Homo sapiens: one gene and its partners. The protein of the gene in region 1 purifies or fractionates together with the protein of each later gene. This does not show direct contact. Each region holds a gene or a part of one and is shown in the gene's direction. Other genes may lie near its edges. The genes, in order: GSTM3, OXSR1, TPX2, LARS1, CAP1, DNAAF5 and TBC1D2B.

Region 1 (2,301 bases):
CTGGGAGGCAGAGGTTGCAGTGAGCCGAGATCACGCCACTGCACTCCAGCCTGGCTACAGGGCGAGACTCTGTCTCAAAAAAAAAAAAAAAAAAAAAAAAAAAACATTCAAAGAGACATATACTAAGATGTTCACTGTGGCATTGTCTGTAATGACAAATAAGTGGAAACCGTGTAAATACCTGTCAATACTATGGAGTACCATGTGGCAACGGAAGAATGAGACTGAACTGTGTGAACTAACATGCAAAGATCCCCAAAACAGGCCAGGTGTGGTTGCTCACAGCTGTAATAACAACACCTTCAGAGGCTGAGGTGAGAGGATCAGTTGAGGCCAGGAGTTTAAGACCAGCCTGGGCAACATAGTGAGACCCCTGTCTCCCAAAAATTTTTTTTAATTAGCTGTGCGCAATTGCTCATGCATAGTCCCAGCTACCCAGGAGGCTGAGGTGGGAGGATCACTTGAGCCCAGGAATTTGAAGCTGCAGTGAGCTGTGTTCTTGCCACTGCACTCCAATCTGGGTGACTGAGCAAGACCCTGTCTCTTAAAAAAATAAAAAAGATCTCCAAGCATAGAGAAGAGTCTGGAGGGAAACACCAAACTCATAACAGTCTTACTGCAGGCAAGTGGGATAAAGGCCCAGACTCCATGGTGGAAGTTAAAGGGCATTTCCAAGTTAAGGCTAAGACTTGCTTTTCTAACTAAGAGAATGTGCTCATGCATTGCTTGTGTAGTAGAAACTAGTTTTTAGAAAAGAAAGCAAACTTAAGAAACACTGACTCCTGTGGAGATGACTTGGCACCACTCTCCTTTCACAGAGCAGAGTCTGAATAGTCTTCAGAGATAGGCCTGTGGGCCAGATTGCCATCCCCTATGGACCAGAAGCCAAGGATCTCTCTAGTGATGGTCAGAGGGCCCAAATGGCAGGGATACCCAGTGATGTCAGGAGGAATAGTACAGACAGAAGGTGCTAAGCAGACAATTCAACTGCCATGTTTTGCCACCCCCTGTGAGCAGGGATTAGGTGTTCAGGCCAGTATCTTGGGCATGGGGGAGCCTTTGGCCAGAAGAGGTATAAAGCTCAGAAGTTTTTCAGTCTGATAACTATTGATATAATTTCCATAGTGTGAGGGAGCGGTATGCTCTACCCTTGTGTATTTAAGGCAGGACAGAGAAATTGAGGATGCCCCTGGGGCTAGATCGATGATATGACCAGAAATCAAAAAGGGAATGCATTATTTATTGCTGTGTAACACTGTTAAGAGAGGAGGTAGTTAAGGGATGGATAGGCACATAGAGAGGGAAGGTCTCAGGAGAAGGGATAGAAAGGAACTATGTTCACAAGAACAACGGCAAGACAGTGCCTATACTGCCTCTACAGTTAATAGGAAAAACGGAAGAAGTTACCCTTAAGCTAGGATGTTGCTCAGAAGTGACCATCCCAACTTTGGTGCGGGCACAATAAATCAGCCTAAATGTCCCTAATTTAACCCAGCTCATTATAATGTCATTAAACATGACATTAGCATTGTGGTTTTAGCACCCCCATGGGTTTTGCTTAGGCACTCATGGGTAATAACCAAGATGGAGTCCCTTTGGCAAAACTTAGGCATGCACAGCTGTAGTACCCCAAGAAGAAAATGTTACTTCTCTCATCTGGGCAAAACCCACAGAAGACTTCCCAGCTTCTGCCACATAAAAGACACAGAACACAGACGCCTTACTGGCAACCTGCTTTCAAGACCCCTGTCTTTGCTGAGAGCTTTCCTTTTTCCCAATAAATTCTACTCTGCCCTACTCACTCTCCATGTCCATGTGCCTAATTTTTCGTGGTCATGGGACAATAGCCTGAACCTTGCCATACTCCAGGGGCAAAAGAAGACTTCTACACTATTCCCACAAATTTAGCAGCTAAAACAATACATGTTTATGGTCTCAAAGTTTTGTGGATTAGGAGTCTGGGCACAGCTGAACTGGGTCCTCTGCTCAGGGTTTCATCTGAAAACTGCCATCAGTGTGTCATCCAGAGCTCTGATCTCATCCCCAGGCTCAGTGGGAGAAGGATCTGCCTCCAAGTCTGTGTAATTGTTGATAGCGTCAGTTCTTTGTTCCCTGTGGGACAGAGGCCCTCCATTTCTCATTGGCTGTCGGCTAGAGCCACCTTCAGTTCCTTGCAAAAGGGATCTCCTCAACACGGCCACCCATTTCACCAAAGCTAGTAAAGGAGTCTGCTGGAAGAAGGAACACTACAGTCCTATGTAATCTGATCACAGCAGTGACATCCCATCACCTGTTCTTATT
Region 2 (3,500 bases), on another chromosome or scaffold:
CCTACTGCATGCCTAGGCTATTTAGTGTAGCCTGTTGCTCTGACTACTGTCAGATACACAGTATATTGTTGGCCAAAGCATTAAGAGGCTCATGACTGTGACTTTAACCCAGAGTTCTCCAGCTAGTCAGACTATCATTCAAGAATGAGCATGAAATTATTTTGCACACAGAAATTGAGTTTTCCAGTCACGTTCTGTCACTTAAAGAACCCATAAGTTGTACTTTAGAAAGAAGGAAATGAAGTCAGAAGAAAGGAATGAATAATAAGAAGCAATGTTGAGCAATCACATTGTTGAGCATATTGAGAAGCAATTGTTGAGCATATGAAAAAATAAGAGTGATAATGTAGGATTTCAGTTTGCATAGCACTTTCACATTTATTCAGCTTTTTAATCTTTATAATAATCATCTGAGGTGCTGGTTCTTAAACTTGAATGCCTATTGGAATTACCTGGGGAGTTTTAAACATTACTAAAGCCAATTAAAGATTCTGCTTTAATTGGTTTGAGGTACAGCCTGGTCATTGGTTTTGTTTGTTCGTTTGTTTGTTTTTGAGACAGTCTTGCTTTGTCGCCCAGGCTGGAGTACAGTGGCACAATCTTGGCTCACTGCAACCTCCGCCTCATGGGTTCAAGCAATTCTCCTGCCTCAGCCTCCCAAGTAGCTGGGACTACAGGCGCACGCCACCATGCCCTGCTAATTTTTGTGGTTTTTTTAGCAGAGACTGGGTGTCACCATATTGGCCAGGCTGGTCTTGAACTCCTGATATCGTGATCCACCCACTTTGGCCTCCCAAAGTTCTGGGATTACAAGCATGAGCCATGGTGCCCTCTGGTCATTGGGATTTTTACATTCTTCCCAGATAGTTCAATGCACAGCAGTGTTTAAGAACTTAGGGGCTTGGCCAAGTAATACTGAACCTTAGAGAGGTTGTGATTTGCTCAGGATCAGGTAGGTGTGTGGCAAAATCAGGTCCAGTCTCTTAAATGTTAAATTCTTTATTCTGAATGATACTCTTTTAAAAGCTTGTAAAATTGACAGTCGTGTCTTTACTTAAAAGGAAATAAGACCATGAAGAAATGAGTTAAACACTGAGTTTTGTTAAATTTGGGGAATATACTTTTAGAATTTTCATTTTTAAAGGGAGATTGTGAAATCTGTTTTTAGGGATCTGTGGTTACCTAAATTGAAGGCTGGCAGGCTACCATGTGGCAAGAAGTGGAGGTCTTGATTTGGTCCATTTCCTCTTTGTGTGTTTAAATATATTTTTATGCCTTGCTAAAAATGTTAGATAGATATTTTCTAGCTTACTTATTGGGAAATAATATTAAATATTAAATTAATATTATTAAATAGCAAATATATTAGACTCTATTAAGAAATCATGCTTCCAGAAAAAACATTTCACTAATGATTTTTTCAAAGAATCTACAATAATTATCAGAATATTTGTTTTGAGTTTTTTATTTTATTCAATGTCCTGTATCAAGTTTATTTTACTTTTGCTTTTTAGCAGTTTAAGGAAAGTAGAGTATACTGAGTTTTTATTTTGCTGTTGAAAAAAATTTTTTCTCATTTTTGATGATGGAATCTGACATTACACTTGAATTAATTATAAAAACTTTTCTTCCCTCCCTTCCTGGTTTTAGACCAACAGCAGCAGAACTATTAAGGCACAAATTTTTCCAGAAAGCAAAGGTAGGAAATTCCAGCTTTTGATTATGTGTGTTCATAGGATGCTCCTCAATTACTCAGATTATGTTCAGTGCTTAGAAGTTGGATGATTATGTTTGGAAAAATGATGGTAGATAAAATAATTGCAGAAAGCACTATGTATACAGTCTTTGATAATTAAGATAATTGCTTCAGAATTTAGTAAATCCGTTTTTAAATATTAGGTTAAACTGATCATAGGAACAATGATTATTAAATTTTGCCATTATAAATATAATTTGTGAAAAATACCGAACTCTGGTTTTAAGGTTTACTACTGAATTTGTAAACATCTCATTTCCCAAATATATCAGATAGTAGGATGTTACTGTAGTTGGAAATGTAGGACCATGATCTCAAAGAACATACAGTACAGCAAACTCTTCATAGACAGTGGTTCATACAGTGTACTACATCTTAATTTTCTGCCTCAATTTATGAAACTGTGGTAGTAACATACTAAAGGAGCTTCAGAGTGAAAGAATGAAAGTTTTTCTCACACTTCATTACAGAACAGTTACTATATCACATTTTGATTATGGTGAACTTTTTTGTGGGTTTTTTTTGGTACCTTAAAAACTTGTAAGAACAAAATACTTACTTTTCCTCTCCAGAATAAAGAATTTCTTCAAGAAAAAACATTGCAGAGAGCACCAACCATTTCTGAAAGAGCAAAAAAGGTAAATCAGAATTTAACTCAGTTTTCCTGAAGAATTTACTTTATTTTTGCATTTTGAAAACATGTTAAGTAATACATTGTTAATAGTATATGAGAATTACTGGTTTTCTGTCGATCCTTTCTAAAGCATTCTTTGATACATTCATTCAGCAAATATCTTTGGTCTACCATATGCCTTGGTATTACTCTGCTATCTTTTAGGATGAAAAGGGATGCTAGACAGTAATTGGTAAATTAATTCTAAACTCTGTTTGATAACTGTTTCCAGCTACCAGAGTGAGTTGTGATTTTACATGACATTTATAGCTTTGGGTATAAGTCACAGTACCCTCTTTGGAACTCCAAATTTTCTACTGCCTTTACAGAAAGACTGAAAGAACTTTATTACGCATATGTAATTTCTAAGAAGTTTGGTCATGATGTGAGCATACAGAATGCTTTAATATCTCAGTTTGGGCAGAATATATTAATCTTCCTGTCCATGATACTTTTATGAACCTCTGTGAGAGCAGGGAGAAGAAAATCCTCCCTTTTCCTCACTCTTACTTCTCTGCTCAAGCAGACTTATCCAATGTGAAGGAAAGGAGGCAGTTTGGGCTTCTGCTGATGATAGACTTGAAGAAGGTAAAGGTCTTACACCTTGTATAATATAGTGGTAGGCCTGTCCAAGAAGTTAGAAGCATTATGTCTAGCAGTGGCTTATTCTCTTCCGTAGATCTCACTGCTTGGGAATTTTGATACATTCCAAGAATTTAACACAATGAAGAACCAGAAATGTATATTAAATACTTGGAAATGATATTCTTAATAAGCACTGGTAAAACAGTTAACTTGTCTCTATTTTAGAGATATATCTTTTTCAGTGGCTATAATGCATCGTTACATATCAGAATCACTTGGGGACTTAAAAAAAAAAAGAAAGAAACATGGACAATGTCATCCCAAACCAATTAAAGTCATGACTCTAGTGGATGAGACCTGGACAATTATTCTCATGGATAGCTACTAGGTTAAAAACTCACTTGGCTCATTCCTTCACTTTATGTCAAGTCTACTCAATTGGCCTTTCCTCAGAATAATATTCTCTGATTACTAAAACAGTACCCT
Region 3 (4,011 bases), on another chromosome or scaffold:
CTTGCTCATTCCAGGGGGCGTAGGTTTATGCAAGTCCTGCTTGTGCACCAATATTTTTTCTGTTTCTGTACTTAGAGGGCCTTTCTGGTTCTCTAGTTCAGGAACCTTTTCAGCTGGCTACTGAGAAGAGAGCCAAAGAGCGGCAGGAGCTGGAGAAGAGAATGGCTGAGGTAGAAGCCCAGAAAGCCCAGCAGTTGGAGGAGGCCAGACTACAGGAGGAAGAGCAGAAAAAAGAGGAGCTGGCCAGGCTACGGAGAGAACTGGTAACTGGGAGCATGAGCACTGACGAACACAAACATGCCTCTGTTTTATTTTACCTGTACCTTACCTTGTACCAGACAGGATCTAAGGTAGCCCGCAAGGCTGTACCAAAGACAATGAGTGAAAGGGGGAATTGCACAAACTGAGGGTGGTGATGAAGTTGAGTTGTGAATGAAGCTAACGATGTGTACATTGTGATCTAAGTAGGAGCTGTAATTTTGGCCCTTTTTAGGAACCAACCTGTCAGTTACAAAACTCGCAGTGTTCATGAGACATAAGACAGTTGTTCAAAAAATACATTTATCCCTTTGATAGTGAATTTTTAGACAGAATTTCTTCCGGAAGTTTTCATAAGGAGGACAACATGTGGTATAACCATGATGCCTTTCCTAGGACTGTTTTTTATTTATTTGTTTATTTTATTTATGTAACTTATTATTTCCTCTGGGGTTAAGAAGCACCACTGAGTTTTGTAATTAGACAAGAATACATAGCGAAGGACATGGGAATTAAATGGCAACTGTATTTTTGTTTTAATACTGAGCCCAAACTCCTTGGAGTTACAGTGTTCGTCGCTCCAGGTAATCCTCTACTAACATAATTATTTAGATGTTGGTTATCCAAAAAGAAACCTGAACTCCACATTAAGGACCAATCTGCTAGGAGGGCAGCAAGTTGTGTTAACTGTGTTAATGAAGAAGCAGACAGTTTTAGATGGAACTTCGTATGATAAATAAAAAAAGAAAGGGTCATGGGGAGATGTTGGTAAAAGGTTACTTAGTTACAGTTAGATGGGAGGAGTAAATTTCAAGAGATCTATCATATAACAAGGTGACTGTAGTTAATGATATATTGTATTCTTGAAAACTGTAAAGAAAGTGGATGTTATGTGCTCACACTACAATAAGTGGATGTTATGTGCTCACACTACAATGTTAATTAGCATCTTGCTAATTAACAAATGCATTATCTCACATAGTAACCATTCCATAATGTATGTCTACTTTAAAACATCAGCGGTACACAATAAAAATATACAGTGTTATCTGTCAATTAAAAAGAAAGAAGGCCAGGAATGGTGGCTCACACCTGTAATCCCAGCACTATGGGAGGCCCAGGTGGGTGGATCACTTGAGGTCAGGAGTTGGAGACCAGCCTGGCCAAAATGGCGAAACTCTGTCTCTACTAAAAATACAAAAATTAGCCGGGCATGGTGGCACGCACCTGTAATCCCAGCTACTCGGGAGGCTGAGGCAGGAGAATTGCTTGAACCTGGGAGGCCCAGGTTGCAGTGAGCCGATTGTGCCACTGCAGTCCAGCCTGGGGGTGACAGAGCGAGACTGTCTCAAAAAAAAAAAAAAAAAAAAAAAAGAAGTGTAAGTTGTTGAGGTTTTGTCTAAAAGTGCTATACTACAGCTGGATGTGGCAGCTCACACCTGTAATCCTCACACTTTGGGAGGCCAAGGTGGGAGGATTGCGTGAGCCCAGGAGTTCAAGAAAAGCGTGGGCAACATAGCAAAGTCCCATCTCTATTTTAAATAAATAAATAAAATGCTAGACTAGCAGTTGAAACAGCTATTGGCAGCTATTGGCATAGGTGATTATGCCCATAGGAAGGTTCCACGGACACACTATTTAGGAGACCAGCCTCTTGGTAAAATCTAGACTACCATTTGCTGAGTGAATGAGAAAATAGTATAATCCCCACTCTATATACACTCATACAATCAGCCTTTTTTCCCGGCCTCAACTTTGATTTTTCTTTAGCATTTGGTACCTGCCTCTTGTGTTTGTCCCCATTATAGAACTGCTTCTTGCAGCAATTCTCAACATAACTGATGGCAACATTGTAAAGCACAATTCAGTCAATGCTGGTTAACTCTCTACTAATCTGGCTTGATTTAGGATTGATTTTAGACTACCCTAAAGGATGGATGGGACCATGCCTTCTTTAGCCACCCTTCCTGGTATGGTTGTTGTGTTTTGTTTTTGCTTTTTCCCCAGGATTCAGGCTTTTGGTGAATATTTATAGTCAGTAAACTTAAGACTGTACTCTGGGAAATTCTTAGCTTGTAACTTCTCTGCTATACTTGAGTACAGCCCTATTATACCCTAGTAAATCACACAGGACATAGGTTTGGCATTCTTTAGTGAAAGCTGAGGGACTTGAGGAGACTGTGGCCTAAAGGAAAGCTGGGGGACCCAATAGAGACCTGAATAGAAACCCTTTTGGGCTCCAAAGCACATACACTTTTCCATCATACCGTGTTGCCCCCCAGGCCCCACTCCCCACACCTGAAACTAGTGACTGGGACCTGTAAAACTCTACAAACATTTTCTCAAAAAGAAAAAAATAAAAGCAATTATAAGCGTAGTTCTCTGACATCCCTCTCACTGGTAACTTTTCCTTACTTTGCAGGTGCATAAGGCAAATCCAATACGCAAGTACCAGGGTCTGGAGATAAAGTCAAGTGACCAGCCTCTGACTGTGCCTGTATCTCCCAAATTCTCCACTCGATTCCACTGCTAAACTCAGCTGTGAGCTGCGGATACCGCCCGGCAATGGGACCTGCTCTTAACCTCAAACCTAGGACCGTCTTGCTTTGTCATTGGGCATGGAGAGAACCCATTTCTCCAGACTTTTACCTACCCGTGCCTGAGAAAGCATACTTGACAACTGTGGACTCCAGTTTTGTTGAGAATTGTTTTCTTACATTACTAAGGCTAATAATGAGATGTAACTCATGAATGTCTCGATTAGACTCCATGTAGTTACTTCCTTTAAACCATCAGCCGGCCTTTTATATGGGTCTTCACTCTGACTAGAATTTAGTCTCTGTGTCAGCACAGTGTAATCTCTATTGCTATTGCCCCTTACGACTCTCACCCTCTCCCCACTTTTTTTAAAAATTTTAACCAGAAAATAAAGATAGTTAAATCCTAAGATAGAGATTAAGTCATGGTTTAAATGAGGAACAATCAGTAAATCAGATTCTGTCCTCTTCTCTGCATACCGTGAATTTATAGTTAAGGATCCCTTTGCTGTGAGGGTAGAAAACCTCACCAACTGCACCAGTGAGGAAGAAGACTGCGTGGATTCATGGGGAGCCTCACAGCAGCCACGCAGCAGGCTCTGGGTGGGGCTGCCGTTAAGGCACGTTCTTTCCTTACTGGTGCTGATAACAACAGGGAACCGTGCAGTGTGCATTTTAAGACCTGGCCTGGAATAAATACGTTTTGTCTTTCCCTCCCTGATTGTGTTATTTGATGTTTTTAAATCTGTTAAGCCCCTTTGGAGGTCACATCTTATTGGGAAATGGGTAGTTTGAGAGGTGGGTCCAGGAACTTTTTTTTTTTGAGATGGAGTCTCGCTCTGTCGCCCAGGCTGGAGTGCAGTGGTGCGATCTCTTCTCACTGTAAGCTCTGCCTCCTGGGTTCACGCCATTCTCCTGCCTCAGCCTCCCGAGTAGCTGGGATTACAGGCGCCCGCCATCATTCCCGGCTAATTATTTTTTTTGTATTTTAAGTAGAGACAGGGTTTCACCGTGTTAGCCAGGATGGTCTCGATCTCCTGACCTTGTGATCCACCCGCCTCGGCCTCCCAAAGTGCTGGGATTACAGGCGTGAGCCACCATGCCCGGCCCAGGACAGTACTTTGTAATTTTTTTCTGTCTTATGTCAGAATATCTCCATATTCTGTTAACTCTCTCTCAGTAACCACTTAATCATGTATGTTATGCCTTCACACAG
Region 4 (3,935 bases), on another chromosome or scaffold:
CGCCCCTGGCCCTGTTTGGTAGTGGTCTAAATAGTCTGAGTCAGGCAATGGGACCAGGTAGGCTTTCAGTCTCTTGCTTAAAAATGGAGATTGTTGGCCGGGCACGGTGGCTCACGCCTGTAATCCCATCACTTTGGGAGGCTGGGGCGGGCGGATCACGAGTTCAGGAGATCGAGACCATCCTGGCCAATATGGTGAAACCCCGTTTCTACTGAAAATACAAAAATTAGCTGGGCGCGGTGGCGCGCGCCTGTAGTCCCAGCTACTAAGGAGGCTGGGGCAGAAGAATCGCTTGAACCCGGGAGGCGGAGGTTGCAGTGAGCCGAAACCGCGCCACTGCACTCCAGCCTGGAGACAGAACGAAACTCCCTCTCAAAAAAAAAAAAAAAAAAAAAAAAAAAAAAGGAGATTGTTGGCTAGGTACGGTAGCTCACGCCTGTAATCCTAGCACTTTGGGAGGCCGAGGGAGGCAGATCACGAGGTCAGGAAATCGGGATCATCCTGGCTAACAAGGTGAAACCCAGTCTCTACCAAAAATACAAAAAATTAGTCGGTGTGGTGGCGCGCGCCCATAGTCCCAGCTCCTCGGGAGCCTGAGGCAGGAGAATTGCTTGAATCCGGCAGGCCGAGGTTGCACTGAGCCAAGATCGCGCCACTGCACTCCAGCCTGGGCGACAGAGCGATACTGCGTCTCAAAAAAAAAAAAGGAGATTGTCAATACGCGGTTATACAATGTCTAAATGCTGGGCTGTTGAATGCCACTGACAGTAAAAAATATCTGTGCATAGTGGCAAGCCATAAGTAGCACCTCAGTCACCGTATAGTAATTAACTGCGTATCCTGGCATCCCGACAGGCAACCAGCTCTACCGGGTGAAAAGGTTGATGGCCAAGGGACTCCAACCTAACCAGGGCGCACTCGCGGCATTCTGCGATCCCGCACTGCATCATGGACTTTGTAGTTCAACATGCCAGTGACGTCACTGCCGGTTCCCCTCTGAGTGGGCCTATCGGGTAGACTTCCGATAACCCGTTTTTCTCTGGGAATTGTAGTCAGTTAGCGCCTGCTGGGTGTCTGCTCGGGTGGTCTGGGAACTACAATTCCCGGCGGGCTGTGAGATGCCTTGGCTGTAGTTAGTAAGGAGCCGGATGATTGCCTCAGCAGGTGTGAAGCGTGTGCTTTAGTTTCGTGGGAGGCCTGGCATCCCCGAGAGGGAGGGGAAAGGTAACCACTCCTTTGTGGAGGTCGCCAGGGTCATTGTCGTGGATTTGCACAGTCGGCTGGGCGGTGCAATGGCGGTGAGTTTGAGCGAGAAGAATCCGCAGGGGCCCTGGAGCCGGACTGGCCAGTCTCTAGGGGCTCTCCATGTGCTGTCCTGAAGGGAAAGTCCTTTTCTAAAAGAGAGCCACGCTTAAGGCGTGCCTTTCGTAGAGACTTTGCTTTTTCTTGCTAGTTTATGAACCACGAACTGATGTCTGTTAACTTTACGGAGTACTTGGATATCATATTTGTTATTTCTCTGGAGTTTCTAAAATCGAGGTGGAGAGCCGGGCACGGTGGCCCACGGCTGTAATCCCAGCACTTTGGGAGGCCGAGGCGGGTGGATCATTTGAGGTCAGGAGTTCGAGACCACCCTGGCCAACATGGTGAGACCCCGTTTCTACCAAAAATACATAAATTAGCCGGGCGTAGTGGTGCGCGCCTGTTAACCCAGCTACTCGGGAGGCTGAGGCAGGAGAATTGCTTGAACCCGGGAGAGGGAGGCTGCTGTGAGCCAGGATCGCGCCACTGCACTCCAGCCTGGGCGACAGAGTGAGACTCCGTCTTAAAAATAAAATAAATAAATAAACAAACAAATAAAGCCGAGGTGGAGAGAGGAGTATGTAAGTTGATTCCTACTTACAGCAAAAAAAAAAAAAAAAAAAAAAAAAAAAAAAGAAAAAATTGAGCGCCTCTCCGTAAAACAGACAAAAATCTCTCTTTTCATAGTGTTTATGTGTGTGGGTAAAATACATTGTAAAATATTGTGTCAGGTGCTGATAAATGCTGTGGGGAAAAAATAGAGCAGGAAGGGGTGCTAGGGAGTGTACGGTGGGGTAGTACAGTTGCAATTTTTAAAAATTTTTTTAAATTTGGGAGATGTTCTCACTCTGTGACCCAGACTGGAATGCAGTGGCGTGATCATGGCTCACTGCAGCCTGGACCTTAGGGCTCAAGCGATCCTCACACCTCAGCCTCCCCACAGCTGGTACTGCAAGCGTGCTCCATTACACCCTGCTAATTTTTTGTATTTTTAGTAGAGACAGGGTTTCGAACTCCTGGGGTCAAGCGATCCTTCTGTCTCAGCCTCCGAAAGTGCTGGGACTACAGGCATGAGCCATCCCGCCTGGTTTTATTTTTTTTTGTTTTTTGTTTGTTTGTTTGTTTTTTTCTTGAGACGGAGCCTTGCCCTGTCGCCAGGCTGGAGTGCAGCGGCGCGATCTCGGCTCACTGCAACCTCCTCCTCCCAGGTTCAAGCGGTTCCCCTGCCTCAACTTCCCGAGTAGCTGGGACTACAGGCGCGCGCCACCATGCCCAGTTAAATTTTTTGTATTTTAGTAGAGACAGGGTTTCACCACATTGGCCAGGATGGACTCAATTTCCTGACCTCGTGATCTGCCCGCCTCGGCCTCCCAAAGTGCTGGGATTACAGGCGTGAGCCATGGCGCCTGGCCTGTTGCAATTTTTAAAAGGATGATCAAGCAAGGCTTTGCCAAAAAGGTGGCAAAAACGAGGTAAGAGAGCAACCTATGCAACTATAGGAAGAAAGAGATTTCCAGGCAGGGGCAACAGTGTAAGTGAAAAGCAGGGATCCCGGGTAGAAGCCAGGGATGCTTCTAAACATCCTGCAGTGCACAGGACAACCCCTGAAAACAAAGAATTATTTGGCCCAAAGTGTAAGTAGTGCCAAAGTTTAGGAACTCTGATTTAGTTATATAGCCTTTTGTTACCAGTGAGGAGGTTGAGTCTCAGATTGATCAAATGACTTGCTCAAGGTTATACAACAAGTTGGTGTTTGGGCCAATATCAGATTTTATTATACTTGATCTTTGAGGTTTTGAGAAACAAGTTTTTCTGAGAAACAGAAAACTCAAATAAAAGCTTTCTTGCATTTGGCATACTCAGTACAATGAAAAGAAACACATAGTTCTAAGTAATTTGTAAAAGACTTGCTTTCATAGTCTTCTTTACAATGGGTGACATGATCATATTTTTTATTTTTATTTTTATTTTTTTTTTGAAATGGAGTCTCATTCTTTCCCAGGCTGGAGTGCAGTGGTGCCTCCCAAGTTCAAGTGATTCTCCCACTTCAGCTTCCTGTGTAGCTGGGACTACAGGTGTGCGCCACCATGCGCTGCTAATTTTTGTATTTTTTGGTATAGTTGTGGTTTCACCATGTTGGCCAGACTGGTCTTGAACGCCTGACCTCAAGTGATCCGCCCACCTTGGCCTCCCAGAGTGCTGGGATTACAGGTGTGAGCCAATGCACCTGGCCATATTTTTTATTTTTTGAGACAGGGACTCACTCTATCAACCAGGCTGCAGTGCAGTAGTGCAATCATAGCTCACTGCAGCCAGCCTTGATCTCCTGGGTTCAAGTGATCCTCTGGCCTCAGTGTTCCCATGTCCTGCTCATGGTAATTTTTAGGTAAAAGATATTTGTTACATAACTTCTGTGTCTGTGGCATTGTACTTTGTGCTAAGGTGACTATAAACAATTTAAAAGTTCCTGCCTGTTGAGAATTTACAGCCCAACTGCATAAATGTCTTAAGATCATTGGTTGCATTTAACAGAAGTCAACTCAAGTTGGTTAAGGAGGAATTTAGTAATAAAGTGGAAGTTGGCCAAAGGCGATGGCTCAAGCCTGTAATGTCAGCACTTTGGAAAGCCAAGG
Region 5 (3,500 bases), about 70 Mb from region 1:
CCATGCCTGGCTAATTTTCTAATTTTTTCGTAGAGATGAGGTCTCACTGTTTCCCAGGCTGGTCTCTAATGATTCTCCTGCCTTGGTCTCCCCAAAGTGCTGGGATTACAGGTGTGAGCCACTGTGCCCAGCCAAGTTCAGCTTTTTCTCAAGGGGTAAAGGATAAACCCATTTGGTTACTTGCTGGAGTAGCACTTTGGAGTTACTGAGGGCTGCCCTTAGCCACTGTGCTGGTTTTATCTCAGGGCTGCTTTCTGGAGAGCTTTACAGATATTGTCTCACAGCTGCATTTGCAAGCAGGAAATACTTCTGCTTCCACTTCTGCTTTCTCTCCTTTTTTGGTAGAGGCCCTTTTAGTCTTCTGATCCTTACCCTTCTGGGTTTAGGAAGTTTTGCTGGCAGTAACATGGACTAATGCCCTTTATATAAGATTTTGTTCCTTTGTTGAGAATTTGTTACTGGCCCAATGGCAAAGGGTTCAATAGGACTTAATAGAAATTTTTCATGAAGTCAGTTAAAGTGAGAGTAAGGCTGCCTAGCCAATGCAGGTATTACGTAGGGCAGTCATTGCATGTCTAACCACATACGTCTACCAGTTCTGACTTCTCCATTGCTGGTTTTGAGCTGGAATGATTGCAGGCAAAATTTATTAAGTTGCATATCTACACAAGCCTTTCCTTTCTTCCATCCTTCATCAATCAACAAACATTTATTAACTACTCTTTTTAAGGAAAACTACACCTTCCTGTGAGTGAAATGTGTCCCAGAACAACAGGCACTTCCTTATCCTTCTAGCAACATGGAATTAAGCATGACAGTGTTTTGATATATCCCACCATTATCCCATCACTTTACAGTTGAGGAAACTAGGTCTTAGGCTAAATAACCTTCCCAGTTAATACATAAGAAGAGAGGGGACTTGAACCGTAGGCACAATGCTATTTCTATAATTTAAGGCTGATTGTTTCCCCCTAAGGGAAAGTTTTTAAGTTTGCTTTTGGTCAGGGTGGGCATATTTTGACATAAGGCATTGTCTCATAAGGCAGTTAAGTTTCTTAGTCTTTAGAGTTCCACAGTGATACTTAAGAGCTCTCCTCTCTACCATGGTTTTATGCACAGAATGTCTGCTTTTATCAGTTTTACATATTAGATTGTGTTTAAGGTCTACTTTGAAAAAAGTTTCAATAAGCAGCAAGTGGTCAAAAGAAAAAAAAAAGTTTTGGTACTTAAAACAGTTTGAGAAACATTGCTATGAGAGATAGAGATAGAATCCAGAGTCTCTATCTTAGTGGAGTTTGGTCTGATTAGGGTAATAGACTAGGTTGTATATACATAGAAGCTGGTGATGATAGAAAAGCTGCCATTGAGCGGAGCCTAAGAAACACCACGGGTAGGAGAATGTGAGCCCATAGGAAAGAAGGGTTCTGGAGTCACCACTGTTATGTACCCGGATCACCTGTGACAAGTTCTTCTTTAATCCTCCCAGGGATAAGAAGCATGTAGACTGGGTCAAAGCTTATTTAAGTATATGGACAGAGCTGCAGGCTTACATTAAGGAGTTCCATACCACCGGACTGGCCTGGAGCAAAACGGTTAGTGAATCCTTCCTCCCTCCCTCCCTCCCTCCCACTTTCTCTCTCCAGCATGGGGTCCACAGGTTTCTTAGACTTCAGCACTACCAAAGTCTGTGAGGGAATGCTAGTTTTTTCAGTGGAAGGGAGGAAGAAAAGGAGGAGAAAGAAAGGGTAAAAAGAGTAGAGGAAGCAAGGATCAGAGGAGAAGGAATATTCAGTGGTATTCAATTTCAATAAATATGTTAGGGACAGTGATTGGTGCTGGAGCAGGAGACACACACAAATGAGTTACACTATCCCAGCCTTTAAGGAGCTTAAAAATAAGAATGCAAAACCCCAATACAAATCACCAAGCCAAATGCTATAATAAAGATACAGACTAGAGTATGAGGAAGAGAAGAGTGCTTCTCACTAGAAGAGATTGTACTTTGAAGGTATATACTCTTCTGTGAGACTTGAAAGTAGTATAGGGCAGTGAGAAGTGGGATACTACAAAAGGCACAGCTTAAACAAAATACATGCAGAGTAAATGTAGAGATTGGTCATCTCTGGCTTCAATAAGGGGAAATGATCAGAATTTTAGGAGAAAAGGCTGGAAAGGAAGGTAGGCTGAGACTTTGGGATGAGGTATTTGAGCAAGGGAGTGATAATGATTCAATTTGTCTTTAAAAGAGTCTCAGTGTATAGGTTAGGGATAAGGACTCATGCTCAGATTATGAAAGTGGTCATGGTGTTTGGGGGATAGTAGAAAAACATTTGCAGGAGATAGCACCAAGATAATAGAGATTTGATAAGGTCGAAGAAGTTGGAATCCTCAAAGAAGATTGAATAGTCAGTCTTGGATAGTAACATCTTTCACTGAAATAGGGACAAGGGGATGATTGTACAGGGAGAGGAGCGGCAGGAAATGATGAAATCAGTTTTGAATCTGTTGAATCAGAGGTACTGGTAACACACTAAGGAAGATGTCAAGTAGATTTGTGGAAATAGTTTTTAGAGCTGGAATCAGGTGAGTTCAAAGGCAAAATGTGATGGTCAAGAAATAGAACTGAGAGCTGGATCCTTGGGAAAGGGTGAGAAGGCATAAAGCCAAGTTGGGTATGGGTAGGACACATTAATCATTGCCTCAAAGGCTGTGGTGGGGACCCCATGTGCACTGGCCCATGTAGGGCACTACTGGGAATGGTACAGAGGGGAGCAGAGAGGATGATGATGTTACCTGCACTTATTGTTCCAGGGGCCTGTGGCAAAAGAACTGAGCGGACTGCCATCTGGACCCTCTGCCGGATCATGTCCTCCTCCCCCTCCACCATGCCCCCCTCCTCCCCCAGTCTCTACCATTTCATGCTCATATGAGTCTGCTTCCCGCTCATCACTGTTCGCGCAGATTAATCAGGGGGAGAGCATTACACATGGTGAGTGAGCACTTGGACACGAACAGTAGGTACAACAAGTTGTGTGGGCCAGACCCCACCAACCAGAACCGTCTGTAAACTACAACCCTGGCTTGTGTGGTGGAGACTCGTTTGGTGTGTCCTGTTCCTTTAAGGGACGGCAAAGCTGGCTTAAATGGAAATTGAAAATGATGATCACAGTTGGAGGAAGCCATCTGCCCCATGGGAAAGTGACTTAATATTAGGTAGCATATATAGAGGACCCTCTTGTGCCAAGGCACAGAGCTGGCGGTTTTCCCCAGAGCTTTTTCCGTGGCACCACATGGCCTCTGGGAAGGCATTGTGTTAGGGAGTTAACTTCCTCAGAAGATGCATACTGGTTACATGGAAAATTTGCATGAGAGTGACCTAATGTTGGTATAAAGTAGATACCCTTAACACAGCTGGTGGAAGTCTGAGTTGTCCAGCCACTTCTAGGAATCTATGATCATAGTAGCTAAAAATGGTGTAACAACCTAAATCCAACTGTAAG
Region 6 (3,500 bases), on another chromosome or scaffold:
AAACCAGTCCCAGCCTGTGTCCAGGCCTTGCGTACCCCTGCCCAGCACCGGCCAGTATTTCTTTGGAAACACCCAGAAGCCCAGGTGCCCACAAAGCTCTGTTCAGCTGTCAGCAGACCCCTCCCCGGCTGTTCCTGGTCACGCATCTCTCATTTTGCAAACTTTCCAGAGCGGATCGTCATCAGGAAGAAAGGTGCAGCTGGGCGTGGTGGCGCATGCCTGTAATACTGAGGTCAAGAGTTCAAGACCAGGCTGGCCAACATGGTGAAACCCCATCTCTACTAAAAATACAAAACTTAGCCAGGTGTGGTGGCATGCACCTGTAGTACCAGCTACTCAGGAGGCTGAGACATGAGAATGGAGAATTGCCTGAACTCAGGAGGTGAAGGTTGCAGTGAGCTGAGATCGCACCATTGCACTCCAGCCTGGATGACAGAGCGAGACTGCATTTCAAAAAAAAACGAAGAGAGGTGTGTTTGCACCCTGGCTTTTTTGTTTTTTACAAAATGATGACAGGATCATTTAAACAGCCAGCAGAATTTTAATTATTTGGAACTAATTCCATAATACAGGATAAAAACAGAAAAATAACCAGAAAAAGGTTAAAAATGGGGTGTCCTGGTACAAGCTGTTCTTATTAAAACATACCCTTTAGCCTGGATGCAGTGGCTCACACCTGTAATCTTAGCACTTTGAGAGGCCGAGGCAGGAGGGTTACTTAAGCCCAGAAGGTCAGTGCTGCAGTGAGCTGTGATCGTACCACTGCACTCCAGCCTGGGTGACAGAGTGAGACCCTTTCTCTAAAAATAGAAAAAGACCCTTTAAATCCTGACATATCATGGTTTCATTTCTATCTTTACAGTTGTTCTGAATTTTTTTTTTTTTTTTTTTTTGAGATGGAGTCTCACTCTGTCGCCCAGGCTGGAGTGCAGTGGTGTAATCTTGGCTCACTGCAACCCCCACCTCCTGGGTTCAAGTGATTCTGCTGCCTCAGCCTCTGAGTAGCTGGGATTACAGGCGCTCGCCAGCACGACCGGCTTATTTTTTCTATTTTTAGTAGAGACGGGGTTTCACCATGTTAGTCAGGGTGGTCTTGAACTCCTGACCTCAGGTGACCCGCCTGCCTTGGCCTCGCAAAGTGCTGGGATTACAGGCATGAGCCACCGTGCCCGGCCTGAATTTTGAAGATCAGAATCTTTTCATCAAAGTCCCTGAAGGCTTTTCTGTAGAAATCGACAAACTGATTGTGAAATTCTCGTGGGCGTGCAAAGGACCCACAGCTGCCGAAACACTGGGGAGGAGTGAAGCTGAATGGCAGCAGGTCCTGGGTGCAAGACTCACAAAACCACAGTCATGGGGCCACGTGGTGTTGGCTTTCAGACCGATGAGCAGAACGAGAGCGTCCAGAAACAGGCGCCCGCACGCGGACCACTGACTTGATGAAGGCTCAAAGACCATTTAATGGCATCTTTTAATAAGGATACTGTAAATGATAGGATCACTCATACACCAGAAAGTGAACTTGGAGTCAAAAAATTAACCCCAGATGCGTCAGGGATCTGAAGGTAAAGCCCAGAACCGCAGAGCTAGGGCGAAGCCTTTGTGACAGTGGGCCGGGCCACACTTCGTGGGATACGTCCTCAAAAGACCGCAGAGTGATGACGAAGCCTTTGTCACCGCGGGCCGGGCCACGCTTCCCTGGGTGCATCCTCAAAAGACTGCAGAGTGACGACGAAGCCTTCGTGACCACGGGCCGGGCCACACTTCGCGGGATACGTCCTCAAAAGACCACAGAGTGATGACGAAGCCTTTGTCACCGCGGGCCGGGCCACGCTTCCCTGGGTGCATCCTCAAAAGACTGCAGAGTGACGACGAAGCCTTCGTGACCGCGGGCCAGGCCACGCTTCCCTGGGTGCATCCTCAAAAGACCGCAGAGCTAGGACGAAGGCTTCGTGACCGTGGGCCGGGCCACGCTTCCCTGGGTGCGTCCTCAAAAGACCGCTCTGTAACAGGGTAAAGCAATGTGTGGACTTCATCAAAATGAACACTTCTGCTTTTTCAAAGGCCTGTTGAAAAAACGAAAAGACAAACCAAAGACTGAGATGTTTGGAGATGATGTATGTAAGGATTTATCTCCAGAGTATAGGAAGAGCTCTTGAAACTCAGCAGGAAAACAATCCATTTTTTTAAATGGGCAGAAAACAATTTGGAAAGACCCTTTACCAGGGAAGATAGGCGGCAAACAAGCCTGTGAAGAAGACGCTCGGCGTCGTTAGTCATCGGGGAATGCAAAGGAAAAGCACACGGAAATGCCACTGTGCCTCTCGGACTGCTTTCAATTCAAGACTGAGCGTACCGCGTGCCGCTGAGAGTGGGAAGGAGCGCGGACTGGCTCAAACACTTTGGAAAATGGTTGGACAGTTTCTAAAACAGTTAAACGTGCACCTTCCCTGTGGCCCAGCCCTTCCACAGCTGGTATTTGTCCCGGCACAGTGAAAGCCCAGGCCACACAGACTTGCCCTGGACACCATTTGAATGCTTCTCCACAGAGGAGCGGGCACTAAACTGGCATCTCCCCAGAACAGGCCACTTCCCAGGTTCAGAAAGGAGCGGGCACAGGCGGGCCTCAGAAAACGATGCAGAGTGAAAGAAGCGGAGAAGGGAGGAGAGTGAACGAGAGGCTTCCACTTGTGTCAGGCTCTAGAAAGTGCAGCTCAGTCACGGGACAGATCCAGGGGTGCCGGGGTGCCTTGGGGGCTGCAGTGCAGAGGAGCAGAGGAAGCCGGGCGAAGGACGCAGCTGTCACCCCCACCATGCCGATGGCTTCGCAGCCGTGTCTCTCATATGGCGATGGCTTCGAAGGCATGTCTCTCTGATCATATGGGGACGGCTTCACAGACGTGTCTCTCATCATATGGGGACGGCTTCACAGGCGTATCTCTGTCATCATATGGCGATGGCTTCGCAGGCTTGTCTCTCTGATCATATGGGGACGGCTTCGCAGGCGTGTCTCTCTCATATGGGGACGGCTTCGCAGGCGTGTCTCTCTGATCATATGGCGACGGCTTCGCAGGCGTGTCTCTCTCATCATATGGCGATGGCTTCGCAGGCGTGTCTCTCTCATCATATGGGGATGGCTTCGCAGGCGTGTCTCTCTGATCATATGGCGACGGCTTCGCAGGCGTCTCTCTCTCATCATATGGCGATGGCTTCGCAGGCGTGTGTCTCTCTGATCATATGGGGACGGCTTCGCAGGCGTGTCTCTCTCATCATATGGCGATGGCTTCGCAGGCGTGTGTCTCTCTGATCATAGGGGGACGGCTTCGCAGGCGTGTCTCTCATCATATGGCGATGGCTTCGCAGGCGTGTGTCTCTCTGATCATAGGGGGACGGCTTCGCAGGCGTGTCTCTCTGATCATACACGTCAGCACGTGTGGCAAGTGTGTTGTTTGCATCTCTGTGTGGCTCTAAATGTTTGTTTTTTGAGACAGGGTCTCGCT
Region 7 (3,500 bases), on another chromosome or scaffold:
CTTGGAGTTTCAAGGGCTGAAGCCAATATGACATGTGTCCTGCCCCGACCTGCTCTCAAAGTTGGACTCGGCAGAACTTGTCACCAGCTTGTTATGTTCTTTTATAGACAGAAAGCAAATAGGCAAAGGTTAACAATTGGCTAATTTAGGTGAAGGCTATATTGTGTTCATTGTACTTTTCTTTCAACTTTTCTGTAAGTTTGAAATTTTTCAGTGTTGAAGAATATGTTCTCTTACGTGCCTTATACGTTTTAGGTCATAGGATTTGTTATTAAGAGTGATTTTTAGTTATGGGCTGTATATGTATGTAGACTTTTTTTACGTAAACTGGATAAGTGAAGATGAGAACCTTCAGAAAATATGTTCAGTTTCTCTAGTTTAAAAAAAAGTAAGGTATTGCTTTTTTTTAACCACCTCAATGAATATGGAATATGGATAGATAAAATATTTGCATAGATTTAGGAATATGTCATATTTATTTCTCCTGTCATCAGTTGAGAAAAACTACCACAATTAAATAAAAATATCTTCTCCATCTCCGTTACGGCAGTCATGCCTGCCTGCCTTCTACTACTGTAAATGGCCAAAAAGATTAATTAGGAAGTGCCTTTTAACAACTTCTAGTTCTTTAGAACTTACTCTAACTTAGCAGGGCTATTTGATTGGTGAAGCAGCAAGCTACTGACTACATAGGGTAATTAATTAGTCAATATTCAACCAATGTGAATTCAGGGATTTTTTTTTTTTCTAACAGGATAATCTACAGGGGTACAAAACCCAAAACAAATTTCTAAATAAGGAGATTTTGGAACTCTCAGCTCTACGAAGAAATGCAGAAAGGAGAGAGAGGGATCTGATGGCAAAGGTGGGTCAGGATAGGTGGATTCTATTACCTGGTGGGAGGTAAGGTTAGGAAACCATTAAAAATAAGCATGCTTTACAAAGCGGTTCAACTCCCAGGCTTGGAGAGATGTGGTTACTGATAACAAAATATATTTAAAATACATATAATACATAGAGCTGTATAGTTAGTCTCATTTTATTATCTCTGATGAAGACAGATAAATGCCGTGAGATGTGAGTTTTTCACATAAACTGGATAAGTAAGAATGAGAAGCTACAGAAAATGTGTTCAGTTTCTCTAGTTAAAAAAAGAACATAAGGTATTGCTTTCTTTGTGTACCTTTGTTCATAAGCATTTTTAATAGATTTTGAAGAAAACAAAGTAAGTACATAATTATAAGGTCACCTAAATTAAGATTATTTGGGTTTTGATTTATGCTGTTCAGTTTTGTATTTATGGAGATGGTGAGGTAAATGCCTCCTCTGTGAACCCAATAGGGTTGGTGTGAAAGTCAGATATGATTATGGCTGGAAGGGGCTTTGCACAAAGTGTAATGGGACCACAAACATTTCAGCTGTCATCAAATGAGCTGTAATCAAATGATACTTGTCAACAGCTGTTATATACCTGATATACTTTTTTGAACAGAACTTGAAGCATCTTCCCAGACCTTATTCCTGCATGTTTTCTAGGGTATATTTGATTTGTCTGATAAGGTGGCAGATGGGAGCTAGTCCTGGACCACAGTGTCCTAAGAAAGAATGGGTATAGCATGGAGTGGCCACTCATGGGCCATGTGCCAGATGGCACCGAGCTGGACCTCAGTAATTGGCATGTAGCCTGGTTCCTGCTGCTCTCTCCACCTCTGTCCAGAGGTGATGCATTTGTTGGCATCCAGAGGTCTGATTATCAGCACTCCTTCTATAAGGAAGAGAGGAACCCACTGCAGGCCATTTTAAACATGAAAGGTGGTCTGTGGCATAAATTAATTTCTTGTCTTTGCTACAGTCTGTCTCTGGCTCACTTCCTAATAGTTTTGGGTTTGTTGTTCACTGGTCATTTGCGTACCTAAAGATTGCTCTTCCTGTGTCTCTGTCTGAATGGAGGTAACCACCACATTCTCTGCAGTATTCTAGCCTGGAAGCCAAGCTCTGCCAGATAGAAAGTAAATACCTGATATTGCTCCAAGAAATGAAGACACCAGTGTGCTCAGAAGACCAGGGGCCCACCCGGGAGGTCATAGCCCAGTTGCTGGAGGATGCTCTGCAGGTTGAGAGCCAAGAGCAGCCGGAGCAAGCATTTGTTAAACCTCATCTTGTCAGGTAAATGTGCTAGTGACTGTTGAGGGTAGTGCACCCCATTTCTGAAGTCCCTTTTTCAACAGCAGGAACCATTCGCAGAGAGCCGTACACAACTGTGTGTCTCATTTGGTGCTCATGACAAATGCTGTCAGGTCAGCAGAACGGTAATGTCTTCATTCTCCCCTAGTAATCAAGTCATAGAGCGGGGACTTACCACAGGTCTTCTGATTGCAAGACCTATTTTTCGTGTAAGTAAGGGAGCCTTCCTTCTGATCCTTCCTTACTTCAGGAGGAGCCAGTCTTCCAAGGAATAGGAACCTTCTCCTAAAACATAGCCCTACCCACAGGTGGTTCAAAACAAAGGGACCCTTAAGTGGGGAACTGAGCTTACACACACACACACCCCCCATATATTTTTGGGGAAAGCACTAAATCTGGAAGCCAATGATGGATCTTGGATTAAGAACCCTCTCATAACCTGTCTTCTAAAAAATATGAGACTCATGAAATACTTGAACCAGGAGAAATCTACAGATTCACGCAGTTCAGCCTCTTGTTTCCACGACTCAGGACCAGCCCTGTGTCTAGGCCTTGCTTACTGCAGTCTCCTTGCTTCTCCTGCCCCACCCCTGTAGGCCCAGGTGAAGCCTTGCTTCAGTTTGACATGACCTTTCCCTTCTCTGAGCTTACAGCACCAGCCTGCATTGTTTGGGCTACTCAGATGACAGAAATATGCTCAGAAAGTACCCAACACCATCTTTACTAAACACTTTTATGGATGTTTGCCATGTGCCAGGAGCTGTGCTAAGGGTTTTATGTGCAGAGTTGTACTTAATGTTCAGTGAGGTGAGTGTTTTTATCCTCACTTTACAAGTGAAGAAGCGGAGTATGGAAGTGATATAACTTGCCCAGAGTCACCCAGCCTGTGAGTGGTGAGGACAGGCCCTCAGCCTGGATAGTCGGGTTCCCAGGTGCAGTAGCTCCACCAGTACGCTGGGCATTGCTGCTTTGCTCATCGTGGTGGCTGTTAACTTCTGTGAGCTCTTGGAGCGCTTCTAAACGTGCTGTGTGTTCTTCCCATGCAAAAGCGTTTTGTGCTCTTACTATTTATATTGTGTGTTCAAATTTTATATATAAGTGAAATAACCATATATATTGGTTTATTTTCAACTTTTTCTTATGGAAAATTTAAAACATACAAAGAAGTAGACAGAATTATGTAACATATACCCCTGTGTGCAACTAACTTGAGCAATTGTTAATGTTTTGCCAATATAGTTTCATTTTACCTCCTCACTCCCCACAGTTTTTTTCTGGAATATTTTATTTTATTTTATTGTTTTGTTTTGTTTTAT

What was found.
Region 2: the proteins of GSTM3 (region 1) and OXSR1 purify together in Homo sapiens (affinity purification with mass spectrometry; one large-scale study listed by BioGRID and IntAct). This does not show direct contact.
Region 3: the proteins of GSTM3 (region 1) and TPX2 purify together in Homo sapiens (affinity purification with mass spectrometry; 3 studies listed by BioGRID and IntAct, with this or other methods). This does not show direct contact.
Region 4: the proteins of GSTM3 (region 1) and LARS1 fractionate together in Homo sapiens (co-fractionation; one large-scale study listed by BioGRID). This does not show direct contact.
Region 5: the proteins of GSTM3 (region 1) and CAP1 fractionate together in Homo sapiens (co-fractionation; one large-scale study listed by BioGRID). This does not show direct contact.
Region 6: the proteins of GSTM3 (region 1) and DNAAF5 purify together in Homo sapiens (affinity purification with mass spectrometry; one large-scale study listed by BioGRID and IntAct). This does not show direct contact.
Region 7: the proteins of GSTM3 (region 1) and TBC1D2B purify together in Homo sapiens (affinity purification with mass spectrometry; one large-scale study listed by BioGRID and IntAct). This does not show direct contact.

Annotation. Positions count from the first base shown.
Region 1 is NC_000001.11:109,733,437-109,735,737, reverse strand, and holds the end of GSTM3 (glutathione S-transferase Mu 3), read left to right. Parts: 3' UTR 1-1,801; downstream 1,802-2,301. UniProt on the Homo sapiens protein: Conjugation of reduced glutathione to a wide number of exogenous and endogenous hydrophobic electrophiles. May govern uptake and detoxification of both endogenous compounds and xenobiotics at the testis and brain blood barriers.
Region 2 is NC_000003.12:38,228,037-38,231,536, forward strand, and holds part of OXSR1 (serine/threonine-protein kinase OSR1), read left to right. Parts: intron 1-1,650; coding exon 1,651-1,699; intron 1,700-2,328; coding exon 2,329-2,394; intron 2,395-3,500. UniProt on the Homo sapiens protein: Effector serine/threonine-protein kinase component of the WNK-SPAK/OSR1 kinase cascade, which is involved in various processes, such as ion transport, response to hypertonic stress and blood pressure.
Region 3 is NC_000020.11:31,798,290-31,802,300, forward strand, and holds the end of TPX2 (targeting protein for Xklp2), read left to right. Parts: intron 1-75; coding exon 76-263; intron 264-2,680; coding exon 2,681-2,791; 3' UTR 2,792-3,511; downstream 3,512-4,011. UniProt on the Homo sapiens protein: Spindle assembly factor required for normal assembly of mitotic spindles. Required for normal assembly of microtubules during apoptosis. Required for chromatin and/or kinetochore dependent microtubule nucleation.
Region 4 is NC_000005.10:146,179,851-146,183,785, reverse strand, and holds the start of LARS1 (leucine--tRNA ligase, cytoplasmic), read left to right. Parts: upstream 1-1,135; 5' UTR 1,136-1,292; coding exon 1,293-1,298; intron 1,299-3,935. UniProt on the Homo sapiens protein: Aminoacyl-tRNA synthetase that catalyzes the specific attachment of leucine to its cognate tRNA (tRNA(Leu)).
Region 5 is NC_000001.11:40,064,729-40,068,228, forward strand, and holds part of CAP1 (adenylyl cyclase-associated protein 1), read left to right. Parts: intron 1-1,486; coding exon 1,487-1,592; intron 1,593-2,811; coding exon 2,812-2,989; intron 2,990-3,500. UniProt on the Homo sapiens protein: Directly regulates filament dynamics and has been implicated in a number of complex developmental and morphological processes, including mRNA localization and the establishment of cell polarity.
Region 6 is NC_000007.14:750,699-754,198, forward strand, and holds part of DNAAF5 (dynein axonemal assembly factor 5), read left to right. Parts: intron 1-3,500. UniProt on the Homo sapiens protein: Cytoplasmic protein involved in the delivery of the dynein machinery to the motile cilium.
Region 7 is NC_000015.10:78,015,212-78,018,711, reverse strand, and holds part of TBC1D2B (TBC1 domain family member 2B), read left to right. Parts: intron 1-754; coding exon 755-865; intron 866-1,972; coding exon 1,973-2,166; intron 2,167-3,500. UniProt on the Homo sapiens protein: GTPase-activating protein that plays a role in the early steps of endocytosis.